Linked DNA regions of Homo sapiens. The protein of the gene in region 2 interacts with the protein of the main gene of each other region in a pairwise test. Each region holds a gene or a part of one and is shown on either strand. Other genes may lie near its edges. The genes, in order: RHOBTB3 and RHOBTB2.

What was found.
Region 1: the proteins of RHOBTB2 (region 2) and RHOBTB3 interact in a two-hybrid assay, tested with the Homo sapiens proteins (one study listed by BioGRID).

The regions. Positions count from the first base shown.
Region 1 is NC_000005.10:95,726,546-95,734,736, reverse strand, and holds the start of RHOBTB3 (rho-related BTB domain-containing protein 3), read right to left. Parts: upstream 3,402-8,191; 5' UTR 3,055-3,401; coding exon 3,053-3,054; intron 3,045-3,052; exon of another isoform or gene 2,879-3,044; coding exon 2,653-2,878; exon of another isoform or gene 2,635-2,652; intron 1-2,634. UniProt on the Homo sapiens protein: Rab9-regulated ATPase required for endosome to Golgi transport. Involved in transport vesicle docking at the Golgi complex, possibly by participating in release M6PRBP1/TIP47 from vesicles to permit their efficient docking and fusion at the Golgi.
Region 2 is NC_000008.11:22,995,292-23,003,066, reverse strand, and holds the start of RHOBTB2 (rho-related BTB domain-containing protein 2), read right to left. Parts: upstream 3,520-7,775; 5' UTR 2,962-3,519; intron 1-2,961. UniProt on the Homo sapiens protein: Regulator of cell proliferation and apoptosis. It likely functions as a substrate-adapter that recruits key substrates, e.g. MSI2, to CUL3-based ubiquitin ligase complexes for degradation. Required for MSI2 ubiquitination and degradation.

The DNA.
Region 1 (8,191 bases), on a different chromosome or scaffold from region 2:
CTCACTGCTTTTTGTGGAATATTTTTAATAAACAGTAAAAGATATAGAAACGTGAAATGAAATAATAATGTACCACACCAAAAAAACGGATGGGAAAGAGAGAGAAAGACACACTAAATAATGTGCTACATCTAATGAATCTGCAGCACATTTGTTTTAAAAGTGCCAAGTATATAAGGCAAGGATCCAGGGTAAGGCTAAGGATCTATAGAAGAGAACTAGGGAAGGGAAACACAGCTACCTCATTTCAACTTCAAGGCAACAACAACACATCTCTTCTCAAACTATGCCAAAGAGAAAATACTCCAAAGATTTCTAGAATTATGAAGAAAATCAAATTCTCCCACCCCTTGTAAATCAGTTCCAGGGTTTCCTCTCGGGGTTATGCAACACAAGGCTTGGAGCCACATTTGGAGAATTGAACTCATCTTTTAAAAAAAAAAATCTGAATTTCTACAGTGAAACTATTTTATTTTACTTGATTGTGGGGCTGCATGTATGAAGTATGAACATCGCTGCCCCAGTGTACTGGTACTGTAGTTGTATAAATCTTGAATGACCTGTGAAAATCTTACTTTTGCTTAGTATTAATATAAGTGATACATAACTAAAGTTGTAACACTTTATTTTTATATTAGCTACCACTTATAGAGCATCTACTAAATGCCAGCCTCTATACTTAGAACTTGACACGTGCTAGTTTCTCATTCACTTCTCAGCACAGCTTTAGGAGGCATATTATTTTATAGATAGGGAAAATAAGGCTGAGAGAAGGTAAGTGATTTAACAAGGACACACAGACCTGAAATGGCAATGTGGGAATCTGAAATCAGATCCTTTTGATATCAAAGGCTATGCTCTATCTGCTCTGCTATATTTAATATTCTGGTTCCGTACATACGTCAAATAACAGTTGATTAATGCAATCAGCTTTAGAATCTCTGATGGGCTTTACTTACCACCAAGTGAAGAAAAGCACCTTATAAAGAGCAACTCTAGAAATGGAATCTCATATCTGAAGATCATTATAACCTAGAAAATTGTACCTGGTTACAAACTTGGTGCCTTAAATAGGGCCAGAGTCTAACCAAACAAAAAGTTATTAGCAAGATAAACCATAACAACCAGCATATGGCAAAAATCCGTACTATAGAGGTTTATTTTCTCCATTTGGAAGATTTCATTTTACTAGACAAAGTGTATGGGATCACAAGCATTACTGTTTGCAAAATTAACAGTATAAACAGGAAAGTGTTAACAGCTCAAATTAAATACGGGAAAGCAATCCTAACATCCTAATGTAGCTAGTTTTATTTTCCCTACATTTACTCGATTCGCTAAACATTTATTCAACTGCATGTTGAACCGTCATGTTTTTAGGCTGTAAGATCTTTCACAACGAAAGATCCCAAGTAAAAGAAGTGTTTCATTTGCCTGCATAGACTCTGACCAGTAAGTTCTCCATCAATACTTCTTATGAACAGCATCATCACTATCATAACTAGGGGTTTAATAGTATCTCTTAATTGAAAAGGCCTGTTTTTTATTTTACCAAATTAACATAACTTTCTTCTTTAACTGAAAACTTACACGAGCGAGTGATCTTTTCGTTCTGTTATGTGGAACTTTGCATAAGAAATTTTTCCAAGTATATTCTACACATTTTTTAGAATGGCGTGATACTTTCCTATAGTCCTAATTCAGTTTTTTTAATATTGCTGTTTAAATGTGAAATCTTACACAACGATAATTTGTATCTTTTCAGGCACTAAACTTTCTTCTGTTATTAAATGTAACATTTAGCTGAAACATACGTAACTCCAATATCAGTAAAGAATCAAAGATTTTCAAATAAGACTAAAGGAAAACATTCAAACATAATGTTATTGTATGCTGAAAATATTTATATGTGTCAGAAAGTAAGTTCCTTTCTCCCTTAATCAAACACTCAAGAATCGGACTATAATTTATCCACTTCACTACTATTTTGTTCAATTATTACAAATTTTAATTTTTTAAAAGTTTTCCAAACAACATTAGTAATGTTATTTCTGATTTATGAGTCACTAAGACAAATGGCTAACACATAAAGAGTATTTGCATTATTAAAATTAAGTTTTCAGAGATCAATTAATAGTGCTATAAATGAGTCATTTAAAATTAACTCCCAGTCCCTGTCTTTTCCTCCGCTTTCCAGAGGAACTATTTCTGAACTGTCCCAGTGAAAAGTATTTTTGCCTGTGTTGAGCTTTGAGAGGGATGTATTTTTAGAACACCAATATTACACTATCACCCATAGGGTAGACATAAAAAAACACTGCTTTTTGCTGATGAAACTTAGTGACCCCGTCCCTTGGAGTTGGCACATTCAACTGTCTGCTGCCTACCAAGGGTCAACCCACAGTCGTGAAGTGTACCAGTAAGTGCTCCACATTCCCACTGGGGCCTTCTATCTTCCTAAGAGTGTTCTCTGACAGGGCTGTTCCCTGCCCAGTGAAACAAAGGACCAAAGATTTTCTCAAAAATGTTTAAAAATTTGACCCATGTAACGCGGACACTCCACACTCACGGAAGTGGGCAGAAGGGGGAGGGGGAAAAAAAAGGAAAGAAAAGCTTCTTCAGCCTCAGCGCGGAGCAGCTGCTCTTCCTTACCCAGACGGGACAGTCGTGGACCACCAGCTTGACATTCCCAAACGCACTGGCCTGATACTCGGTGAACACCGGACGCGCGACCGTGCTGGCCGCGTTCAGCAACAAGCTGCTCTCGTCCCCGGAGACCAGAGGGCTTCTCCCCAGGTAAGTGCGGATAAGCCCCGACGGCCGGTTGTCCTGGTGGAATGTGTCCCCCTCGTTCCCCAGCGCCACGATGTGGATGGACCTGCACGGACAGAGGGGGCGAGGGGAGAAGGGAAGCACGGTCAGCGCGCGGGTCTCTCCTCGGAACAGGAAGTGCGGGGGACAGCGCGCGGCGAGGATGGGCACCAGCCCCTGTCCCTGGGGCGCACGGCACGCGCTGGAGAGAGACAATGGCAGGACGGCGGCGCGTACGTACATGATCTCAAATCCAAGGGCAGGGCGGCGACTCGGAGAAAAGCAGCGGCTCACGGCTTCGCGGGGCCCCCGGGCGGCGAGTTCACCCGCAATCCGCTCATCCCCGGCCGCGTCCCCCTCGCGCGCCTCCACCGCGGCGGGGCCGACGCAGAGCGGGGCCGGGGCCGCGCCAGCCAGCGAGCGAGCCGGGGACCAGGGCGGGCTAGCGGGCGGGGGATAAGCTGCCGCTACTCAGGGAGTGCCCGGGAACATCGCCGGGCGCGGGACCGCCGCACAGCCCCAAGTGGACGCAGCTGACCGCAGTCCCCTCTCCGCCGCGCCTCCTCGGCTGGCAGCTGTCGCCTCCTGCTGCCGCTGCCGCTGCTCCTCCTCCTCTAAGCAGAGAAGGGGGGTCGGGGAGATCGGGGCCTCCGCCCCCTCAGCGGACCGGGCGCAGCACGTGCCAGCCCCGGGGGTCGGGCGGATGCGGGGGACGCGCTCCCCGCGGAGGCCCCGGGAGCTCCGGTGGCGGCGGCTGGACACAAAGGAGCCGCCCGCGCGGGGCGCCGCGGAATATAAATTAATAAATACAACGCCCCAGCCCGAGAGCTCCCAGCCGCCAATCCGCCTGCAGCAAGTTTGTTCAACTCGCAAGGCCGTAACCAGAGCCAGGAAAGGGGGGTGGGGCGATGGGGCCCCCGCTCACTCCGGACTGGAAAAAGGAGGTTAGGGAAGCTAGGGATTCCAGCCCGAGTGCCGCCCCAGCAACCCGATTTCCCCCCCTCTTGGCCTTGACCGAAAGTGCTTTACCACGTCTGCCGCTTTCTCATTTGTCAACATGCGCTACAGCTGTTTTCTAAAATCATACTTGTGAGAAAAAATAAAGGCAACATTCATGCTGCTGCAGAAAGAGTTCTTTGTTCACACACCAATTAATTTGCTAATGTCGCCTTGGGGGGATTATTTACTATTTCAAGCTATATTTAGCGTATTTTACCGAAAACTTCAGGATTTTAAATGCTGGGATTTTTAGTGTGATCGTTTTTAAAGGAAGTTATGTATGGGGGTTTAACGTGTTGGTAAGTTAAATGCCAGTTTACTTGGAGATTTTTCTGTACACGTTATGGCCACATATTTAATAATAGCTCCGCAGACCAACTGAAAACATAATCACGTAAATGCAAAGATACTTTAGATTCTTTCATAATAATGCACTGAAGTAAAGGCTATGAATATCCCTAACGTGCTTCAAACTACCTCGATACAAACGAACACTGGGATCCACTTACTAACACCAAAATGGGCCAGGGATTACTCTGGGGTTAGACTCCTCCATACAGTATTAAAATTCTAACCAGTACCTTACTCTGTGTTGAAAAGAGTTCTTGCTTATCCTTTTATCTGTTTATTTTTCCCTTCTGTAAAATTGGACTGTTTCTTTTCTCAGCTGAGCTATTTTGAGGGTATGAAAGAGGGGGTATTGAGTAGGGCAGTAAAAAAACTAGGGCAACAGCTTTTTATTATGGGCCCTTATTGCTCGGTTGAAAGTAGTTTAATAGTTTCTCGTGCTCAGAGAGGATATAATGGGAGATATTCTTTATGTGGTCACTGTTTTTTTTTTTAATCTAATTTCCCTTTGCATTTTCTACGATTTCTCTTTGAGTCTCTAGAACCTAAACCATCCTTAAAAATTCCAGCATGCAAGATCACTTTTTCTCTTGGGTTAATAGAAAATATATTTTCTCATCAGTCTTTTCCGGAAACCCATAAGTCAAAAACAAAGACACTAGAATGGATGAATGGATAAAGAAAATGTGGTATACACATGTAATGGATGATTAGCGTTTAAAAAAGAAGAAAATTCCTTCATAAACTACAACATGGATGAACCTTGAGGACCTTGTGCTAAGTGGAATCAGCCAGTTGCAAATCACAAAAAGTGATTCCATTTATATGAAGTATCTAAAGTAGTCAAACTCTTAGAAACAGAAAGTAGAATCATGGTTACCAGGGGCTGGGGAGAGGGGAAAAGGGGGCGTTGTTCAACAGGTATAGTGTTTCAGGTTTGCAGGAAGAAAAAGTTACAGAGATCTGTTGCATGAGGTGCATATATAGTTCGTACTATACTGAACTATAGAACTGAACGCTAGAACATTGTTAACTAAACACTAGAGCGTGTACTGAACACTAGAACATGATTAACATGGTAACTATTGTTATATTTTATGACAATATAAAAATATTAATACAAAAATGAAACAAAAATAGACACCAAAGTTGCTGACAACTTGGAAGTGTCAGAAAGGGAGAAAGTATTCATTTTTTCCTTAGTTACTCAATAGGTGAGCCAAGCCTGTGCTGGGTAGGCATAGGAGATCCCAAGGTACATAAGACTTGGTCATTGACCTTAAGAAGCTAAAGCAATTTGTTACCAGAAAGGGGTCCCAATCCTGACTCCAAAAGAGAGTTCTTGGACCTCCAGCGAAGAATTCAGGGCAAGTCCATAAAGTGAAAGCCAGTTTATTAAGAAAGTAAAGGAATAAAATAATGGCTACTCCATAGGCAGAGCAGTGTCATGGGCTGCTCGACTGAGTATACTTATAGTTATTTCTTGATTATATGCTAAACAAGGGGTGGATTATTCATGAGTTTTTCTGGAAAGGGTGGGCATTTCCCAGAACTGAGAGTTCCTCTGCTTTTTAGACCATATAGGGTAACTTCCTGACATTGCCGTGACATTTGTAGACTCATTGTGCTGGTGGAGTGTCTTTTAGCATGCTAGTGCATTATAATTAGCATATAATGAGCAGTGAGGTTGACCAGAGGTCACTGTCACCACCATCTTGGTTTTGGTGGGTTTTGGCCGGCTTCTTTACGGCATTCTGTTTTATCAGCAAGGTCTTTGTGACCTGTATCCTGTGCTGACCTCCTATCTCATCCTGTGGCTAAGAATGCCTAACCTCCTAGGAATGCAGCCCAGTAGGTTTCAGCCTTAGTGTACCCAGCCTCTACTCAAGATGGAGTCATTCTGGTTCAGACCCCTCTGACATATTAATTAGTTTGTGAATATTAGCACACTCAATCCTTTTGAAAACATTCTAGTTCCTAGACCTAGGCCTAGGCAGTCAGTAAAAGAGATAGGTACAAAGGCAGTCAGTAAAAGAGATAGGTACAAAGTAAAAGATAAGTTCAGTGAATGTTAGGAAGAGATCTGTGCTTTCTGTGTCAGAAGTTCATAAAGAAAGTAAACATTGTCTTAGGTCTTAATAGATTAAGAATTTGTTAGATTTGGAAGAAGAGGAGGTTAGAAGGGAAGGAGTATTTCAAAGAACTGGACAGACATCACATGCAAAGGTATAAAGAAATGGAAGATCATGGCTTGTCTTAGGAACAGCAAGAGATGAAGTTAGTGCTGGCATGAAGGTTTCTATATTAAAGCAGGCAGAAAAAAGAGTGGTGGAGGCTTCCCAAGAGATTTCTGGAGTCATACCTGGTGATACTTAAGCTACAAATTGAGTATCTGGTACAAAGCCTGGCTACATACTCACCAAACCTGTTTTCTCTTCCAAGATAGCTAAATGACGTTTCTCAACTTTTGTGCATATAGGTAGGGCCACATGATTAGTTCTCATCAACGGAATATGATCCCTGCTGAGCAGTAGAGAAGTGTGTCTCTCCATTCTCTTTTATCTTCCTGTCTCAACCACATGAAGTCAGGTCAACCTTGAAGCCAGGTGTTTGAAGCTATTAGCACTGCAGTGTGGAACCAGTCCTTGAATGACTAGTTACAGCAGAGCCTCCTCACAGAATGCATTGTACTGTGATTTGAGTGATAAATAGATATTCAGTGAGTTGAGCCAGACATTTTGAGGTCAATTATTACAGCAGTTAGTGTTATTTATCTTGGCTAAAAGAATATCACAGATGGTCCATTTCCTGATATCCTAAAGATCTTTTCATAATTTTCTTATGACCACTTTTTTAAAGTTATTTCCCTTGTATTTTAAATTTTTATTTGGTTTATGTATTTGCAGTTTCTCTCATCAGCACATTTAAAAAATTTTATTTTACCAGTGTTAACAGAACAGATATCACATGTCCTCCAACCTCAAGGTCACTGGGGAACACACAGGAAGGGCTTCCAACCCAAACAATATTTTTTTCCTATTTTAGTGGCTGAAATGCCACCATTTCATATTTACTCTATTAGATGTTTTTATCCCTAAATAAGATGTAGCATAAAGTACAGTAAGGACATGTAAAGTAATTCAGTGGGCTATTACTAGTCCCCAAATTGTGAATATTCATATACCAGTTTTTGAAAAACGTGTTGGTTCCTTAACAGCTGGAGAGGAAGTAAGCATTGGTGAGGGCAGGCCTAGAGATCTCGGCTTGGCAGAAGATTTTTTCCAACTATGTTTTAAGGAAAACTAGGTTTGCATAGAAGAATCTTCAAATCAGCTTGAGGAGGTGGCAGAAAAAGAGTAAGCAGTGAGATCTGAACTCTGACAAAGGCATCTTAAAGCCAATCAGAGCAGTCTTATTGCTGTCTTTTAAAAAAATATTAAAGTTTCATATTCATTTTCATTAAAAAGATGGGTTTTCTAAGGTTAAAAACAAACGCAATTTTTAAGACTACTTATCTAGAGCCAGAGTCTTCAAGGTGGGGTACAGAAGATGATCCCTGAAATTCCAGAATAAACTTCTAATCACACACATTATTTTTTACTGAAAAAAAAAAGGGGGGAAACGAAATTAAGCTTTACTACTAGTTAATGTTGGGATTGATGCTGGTACCCCAGGTTGACCAGTAAGTGGGCAGATACAAGGAGTGTTGGGGGCATGGCAGCAATAGGATACACAGTGAGGGGCAGCGGGAGGGCTGCCTCCTTTGTTCACTTTCAATATATTGCCACATGTTGCAGTTTCTGTTTCTAAGGAGACTTATGAATGATATTTAAGTAAACTACTGTTACAGCAGGAACCAAGGGAGACAGTGTTAAAAATGCAAGCACAAGCAAAAACCCCCAGCCAAGCTGATGTTTCTGATACTCTTTGGGAGCCACATTGCAAGGTAAAAAACCGACGACTAATCAGATTTGCCAAGAAGTTGACCAAAATAATGGATTATAAAGAACACTGTTTTAAGTATGAATTTACA
Region 2 (7,775 bases):
AGTGCTGGAGGCTGCCCAGGCACCCTGGCTGCTGAGCCATCCAGCCCAGAGCCAGGCCACCAGCAACAACAGGGAGGCTCCATTCCTGCTGGGCTGTAACTGGATGCCAGCATGCAGGGATGCAGACCGAAATATCCAAGTAACGATAGCAACTGGGATCCGTGCGAGTGGATGCATCTCAGCAACCTAAGCAAAAAGTGCAGCAAGGACTTCTCAATGAGACAACCTCCTCCGCCTTTTTGGAATGTTACAGGATCTGGACCCTTCAACGAGGTCTCCATGCAGTGCCCTCATGGTCTCCAGGGCAACTGTACCACCCCTTCTCTCTCCTAACCCTCCCTCAGCAGACAACCGTTTTTTGTTTTTGTATTTTTTTGAGACGGAGTTTTGCGCTTGACACCCAGGCTGGAGTGCAGTGGCATGATCTCGGCTCACTGCAGCCTCTGCCTCCTGGGTTCAAGTGATTCTCCTGCCTCAGCCTCCCAGGTAGCTGGGATTACAGGTGTGTGCCACTATGCCGGCTAATTTTGTATTTTTAGTAGATACGGGGTTTCGCCATGTTGGTCAGGCTGGTCTTAAACTCCTGACCTCAAGTGATCTGCCCGCCTTGGCCTCCCAAAGTGCTGGGATTACAGGCGTGAGCCACCACACCTGGCCCAGAGAACTGTTAAGAACTGTTATTCTAACCACAGGCTTCCTCCTCCCAATTCTCTCTCCTGAACTGAGGACCGGGAACCCCACTTTGACAGTTCCTGATCTCAAGTTGAGGAATGTGCTGGCGCCAGGAGGCAGCATCTGGGCTGTGGTTTCTGTTTTGTCGAGTGAATACCAAAACAGATATAATCCCAAATACAAAATATGTGCAGCTGGAGGATAAAGATTAAAACCCAAGAGCCAAAAGAACTTCTTTCTCAAGTTCCGATTCTCCCAGCATGTAGGTCTGTAGACAGAAGCGGGGGAATGAGGAGGCCTAATGGAGGGATGCCAGTTCTCAAATTCAGGAGCACCTTGACAGTGAGAATAATGCCAGAACACCAGCAGAGCAGTGCTGGGCCAAGTTCAGCTACTTTGTGATGAAAACACTGCTGCCCACCTGTGCTATGTCACCTCTAGAGTTAAGCAGTGGTCAGCCAATCAACAAGTGGAAATTGACAAATACTGTGCCATGAGTTTAGACATCAGACCTTCTGGGTTGCGCAACCCCTTCCATCCATTCCCCAGCCCCTTCAGCAGTCCCCTTGTCCTTCAGCTGCCTCTCTGTTTGTATCATCTCACCCTTTCTACCCTGTCCCAACTGCCTGACTGGCAAACTTCACTGTCCTATCTAGGAAGAGGCAAGTCACTTATATTTTCTGGGCATCAGTCTCCCCCTCTGGGAAATGGGTATGAAGACATTGGAAGAGTCTCCTGAACCGTGGTTAATTTGTGCCAAGAGAGGCTGGGCTGAAAGGAGGTATTTGTCTTCTTATGTAATGTGGTATTATATAATGCTAGATTGCATATCTATATGTGTAATTATATCTGTCTTTAAGATACAGACTGGCCCAATTCAAGTGTTAGAACTCTTAGTCTAATCAGGCCTGTCTTAAAGGAGGATCCTGTCCTGGAGAGAGTGTGCCAAGAGTAATATAATTTTTGCCCTAGGATGTTGCTGATGTTGTATCATTGCTGATGTATGGTGATACAGCCCACTCATTGCTGATATATGGTGATACAGCCCATTCAGTGAGCCTCTCAGCTTCCCCTCTCCCTCCGGCTCTCTCTTCTTCCCTGACTCCAGACTCTCCCTCACAATTGCCTCATCCCCACTCAATCAACCTCCATAAACTATGACCTCCTCACCACCCAGCCCTGGGCATCACAACCCCCAACTCACTCCTCTTCCATGACAATCGCAAAGTCACTGGCATGTGTTCCTTCCATCCCTGTCCCATGATCCCTGTGCCCCTCCAAAAACAGCCTCCTGCCCACCGCTCTCCCAGCTCTTTGTACTTGGTGCAAGCCAAAACCCAAGGTGTGCTGAAATTAGCTACAAACCTCGTGCTCTCCCAGTCCCACCCCCACACCCCTACACACACTCTTTGCAGAGCTCAGAAAGGGCCCCTTTCCCTCCCACAGCTGATAGGAGGCTTGTTCATCTGTGGCTGCCCTAGTCTGGTTGTCAAGGAAACAACAGAATCTCCCTGGGAGCCTGGCTTGTCTCCTAGCAACCAGTATCCCACATCATCTTACAAAATGGGAATGGGAGGAAAATCCTGAAAATGAAGGTAAAATCAAGGGAGATGGATTGAATGGAGAATTGGAAGGAGAAGAACAAAGAGAGAGTGGACTCCTAATTCGGGGAGGCTCCCACGGGGGTCGCTGGCATTGCAAGAAGCCCCGTGCAGATCCAACAGAAAGCAAGGCCCAAAGGGACCCTGAATGGTCAGATTAAAGAAATGCAAGCCTAAACACAGATAAGCCCCCTCAAACCTAAAATGTGGACACATCACCAAACACCGCCAAAGATCTCCCCAGTAGTTTCACAGAACTCAGTTACATAGACTGCAATGGAGTTGAGTTCAAAGAACCAGCTCCGGAACCGCCAGCAAAACACCCCAATTCCACTGTTGTTTTGTGTTTGTTTTCTTAACAGAATCACTCCCACCACTCTGGACCGTTTTTCCTTTTTTCTGACACGCTACTCTGCACACACACAAAATAGAAATTTAAAAATTTTTAAACATCGAGAAGGGGGAGGGGCACGACAGGCCGAAGCAATCAAGTCATCTTCCTTTCCCTAGAAACACCGGAAAGGATTAGGCTCCAGCCCCGCTGTACCCAGCAGCCGAAGCCAGAGCCCAGGGACTAGCGGGGCCCGGGGAACGTAGCGAGGGGCGCGGCAGGGCAGGGAGGGCGGAGCGGCGCGTCTGCAAGGGCTGCTGGCCACCCCGCCATAACCGCAAGCAGCCATCTACTTACACCACTACATGTGACGGGGTGGCTTCTAGCGTGAGGAACACATCTCTTCCTGCTGAGCACGCTCATTTTAGTGAAATGTCAGGGGTCCCTCCGCGCCTGCAAGTTGGGACGACGCCGGCGCCGCCGCGCTGCTGCTGGGCTCCAGCCTCCCGGCCAGCTCGCGGCCACTCAGAAACTCCGGCAGGGCAGCCCAGGCCGGACGTGGGCCCAGGAGCGGACGCGCGCGCTGCACTGCAGCCGCTGCCCCTTCCGGATCAGCATCGCCCCGCGCGCCAGGCGCCCAATGTCACGGCGGCGCGCGGAGCCGGGCTGCGGAGGCAGCGGGCGGCGCGCAGGGGCGCCGGGAGAGGGGCGAGGCCGCCGCCGCTACGCGCCCGGGCCCGCGGCGAAGGCGCTGCCGCGAAGACGCCTGGCGCTGCAGTCCCAGGTACCGCTCGCGACCTCCTTTTTTCATTCACAAAAAAAGGATAGGGAAAAAAAAAAGAAAAGAAAAAAACGGGAGGGTAAAAAAAGGAGGAGAAAAAAATCGCACCCAAGACGACAGCCGTGACGGGCCCCGCCCACTGCCGCGCGCAGTTGGTGGAAAGCGTTCGGGGGGCGGGGAGGGGGCGGGCGGGGGAAGAAGGGGATTGGACGCCCCGCAGATCCCGCCTCGCAGCACCGCTCCCGCCCACCGCCCGCGCTCTTCCGCCCCTCCCGCAGCGACGCCGCGGGGAGGGTCTCGGCTCGCGGGTCTGGGTGGCGCCGGTCCCTCCACCTGGCGAGGCGCAAAGGCTCTCCGGACGCCCACGGGGTTTTCCCCTTTCCTTCGGGAGGCGGGGGAGAACCTCTGAGAGGCATCCTAGTGCACCCTGGAAGGGATGCTAGTTGGAGGAGAACGTGTGGTTGTAAGCCCAGGCCCCCACCACTTGCCCACGGGGAGGCGACGGCAGGGGCAGTCGGGGGGGCGGGGGGCGGGGGCCGGGTAGGGACGAATAACCGGCGTTTCCATACAAGCCCTCTGCTGCTTTGGGAATTTTCGTGGCACTTGAGAGCCTTCCTCCCTCCATGGCCCTTAATGAGTTGTGGGGTGGGTACCTGTACCACGTTACCTGTCTCCCACCTAGGCCTTCTTCAGCGGGTCCCCACCTCCATCCCATCCCCCTCCTGTTGCCTCCTGGAGTTCAGTAATAGCTGCTAATCTCTGAAAGAAACACCATGAAGTGAGTAGCCTCGAAAATCGTCCCTAAGCCTTCTTTGGGTTTTCTGCCTCAATTTACCCCTCTGTAAAATAGAGAGATTCTAAGGTATAACATCTATAACCTGAGGGGTCCCTAGAAGACACTTTCCATATTCAAGGCTGGTTTTATCAGGATAATCTTTTTTTTTTTTTTTTTTTTTTGAGTCTCCCTCTGTTGCCCAGGCTGGAGTGCAGTGGTGCAATCTTGGTTCACTGCAACCTCCGCCTCTTGGGTTCAAGCAGTTCTGCCTCAGCCTCCCGAGTAGCTGGGACTACAAGTGCACGCCACTATTCCCAGCTAATTTATGTATTTTTGGTAGAGACGGGGTTTCACCACCTTGGCCAGGCTGGTCTCGAACTCCTGACCTCGGGTGATCTGCCTGCCTTGGCCTCCCAAAGTACTAGGATTACAGGCGTGAGCCACCATGCCCAGCCAGGATGATCTTGACTGCTAGTGTTAAGTAGTCAGCTCAGTCTGGTTTGATTCATCTCCTCAGTTACCTCTGGACAATTTTTAAAGCCCAGACCAGCCTGCCACCCACCTGAACCGCCTCCACCACTCCTCCATCTTGTGCTCTGAAAATGCAAATCCACTCTAATATTAGTTTATGCAAAATATGATTAGGAAGAGAAATTTACTGCCAAAAGAAAGCCGGGTTAAAAATGAATTTTGTGTTGTCTGAAGCATGCTTCTCATCTGTGAATGCATATACTTGGAAGCTGTCCCTCAAGGTGTTTGTGATCAACGTGCCTACCTACCTGGTCAATGTACAGGAAGTGCTCGGTTGTTGGAGGATGCTTCTCCCACCCCTTTCTCAATCTACTCAGAGCTAGCCAAGAGGTTAACAATGACTGACAGTGCTACTTACTTCTCATTTCTGGTTAGAACTCACCCTCCATAAACCAGAAAGTACTTATTTGAATACATATTTAGGAGAGAAAGTAAACCATGCTCACACATGTTCTTCCTCCACATGTTTGGCATTGAAGAGACTTACCCCATCTTCTGTGTGCCAAAGAGCCCCTGCGCCAGAGAAAATCATAACTTGAGATCTCTGCATGATTCCCACGGCAGGCCAGGGTCTCTCCCACGGACACCCTGTTCCCTCCACCCACCTCCAGAGACCAGCTGAATGCCAGATGCCAGTTGACATCACCTTTCACCTGTCCTGGCAGGACCATAGCCCCTGTGGAGCAAGGAGTAGGAAGACAGAACTCCCGTCCACCCAAAGTCATGAAGCAGGAGAGGGTGGCTGCTCGGACTGTAAGCTAGAGCCAATGCCCTTTCTGCCTTGGGAGAAAAAGCCAGCTCAGCCTGGAAGCCTCAACCAGGCTGGACTGTGTGAATTCCAAGGTGTAGTGTTGATTGGGGTGGAAGGGTCTTGGACAAAAATGTGGGTGTCAAATGAAATTGCACCCCCACAGCCCCCGCCCCGCCCCGCTCACACTCAGTGAACTGTTTCAGGCAGAGGCAGGAGCTTTGCTGGGGAGGTTCCCTCAATTCCCAGCCCTGCTTTTTGCATGCAGTTCCCTCTTTCAGCCTTTCTCCAAATCAAAGTCCTTCCCCATCATTTCACCTCTAGGGCTGTCATGGTTGGCGCCCCAATCAGTTCCCTCTTATCATCAGAGTTCCTCCAAGTCCCCACCTTCTCCTACCAGTGCCCCCCAGCCCATCCTCTGCAGCCCCTTGTCACTGTCAAGCCGCCCCATCCATGTCCCACCCTAGGCCGTCTGGGGACCTCTGCAGACCTCCTCCTCAGGCCAGCCTGCGAGGAGCTCCAGCGGTTCACTACTCACAGCTCAGATGGCAGCATTCCCCACGCTGTATGAGGGGCAGACCACTAGCAAGCTGCAGCCGCCGGCCTGTGCCCCAGTTGTGGCTAAAACCAGGCCTCTTCCCAGCCAGCCCTGGCCAGGACTGCCCCGGGACCCCCACTCTGCTATTCAAGACAGCCTCCAGCCCCTGGTACCCCAGCTGAGGATCTGGCACGTCCCTTCATCTTTGCCCATCTCTCCAATGCCAGATCCTGGAAAACAGGGCCACTCCCAGAGGCCAGGCTTCCCCACCAGCAAGCAAGGTGCTGTTGGGCCTTCTCATGCCCATCCCTGTCCCCAGCTGTTAGCACCCGGCAGGCAGCAGCGTCTCACAGCACAGGAAGCCTCCCACTCCCTTCACTGCGCCCTCCCACCCCAGGCCCTGAGGAGTCCATTTTCCTCTATTCAGGTGACTTCTCAAGGCAGGCCTGGGTGGGAGACAAAAGCTCCTGGCCTCTTTCTTTCTCTGCCTCCTCCATTCCGTTACATACACAGACACACAGACACACACACACACACACACACACACACACACACACACACACACACACACACACACACACACACACACACACCAGCCCTCTCTGCCCATTTGCTGCAGCTTGGAAACACTGGTGTGATTCCGAGGAGCAGTTCAGCCTGAGCACTGACTCCCCCCATTGCTGGCTTCCCAAATCTGCTTCTGCTGGTGGGTCTGGCAATGTCCTGCCATGTGCCTGGCTGCGTGGCTGTAGCCCAAGGGCTTCCTGGCAGCATGGAGGCAGGTTCCATTCTACAATCTCCTGCCCCTGCCCAACCCCAGCATCTCTTCCCTCACCAAATCCCTCTTGTGACCCACCTCCCCAGTGACATAAACCCCTGGAACCTGTCCCCAGAAGGCACCCCCTCTATGCCTCCCCACACCACCCTCCTCCAGGCCATCACGCGGCTGCTGTTTTCCTGAAGCCGGGCAGATGCCTGCCTGTGAACAGGAGGCTTTTCTGGGGAAAGAGAAACCTCCATCCTGGCTCTTAGCAAAGCGCAGCAGGCTCCCCGGCCAGTCCCACCAGCGTTGCTCTCCCTGTGGCTGTGAAGGCCCCTTCCCAGTGCCAGCCCAACGCAGACCGCCTGGCTCAGTCCATCCTCCAACCTGCACCTTCCCTTTGCTTCACAGGCAGCTTTACCCTTCAACACTTTGCAGGCTACTAACCGCGCTTTCATGGCACCCCTCTCCTGGAACACTACAGCCTCTGCGGAGCCCACCCCATGGGCCTTGTGACATGAGCTCCGCCCCCCATCCCCTGCCATGTGCAGGCTGGGGCACGTGGTGTTCCTACCCTGCAGCTGGGGCAAAGTTCAGAACCAGCCATGAGCAAAAGCAGAGGCATTTCAAGATGCAGAGCCCCAGCAGGGTGAAGGAGCTGAATCTGGAAAGCCTAGAGTCTCTCAGCCTCCCTGTCCAGGCCTTAAGGGACACCATCAGGTCCCCACAAGGATACAGGAAGCTTCTGGGACTTTGCACAAGCAGTTCTTCAGTCCGAACACTCTATTTCTACTCCTTTCACCAGATAAATGTGTACTCATCTTTCAAGTCTCAGCCTAGATATCACTTCCTCCAGCAAGCCTTCCATGAATACTTTCTTACACTTGACAAAGTGTAACTTTCCTGTTCTTCCCCTGTGCTCCCCTAATAATACCAATCACACCAATCTATCATTGGGTTCTTCTCTGTCCTTGATTGTACTGAGAACTCCCTGGGACCGGCAGGGGAGCTTTCGTAAGAGCCAGGATGCAGATTTCT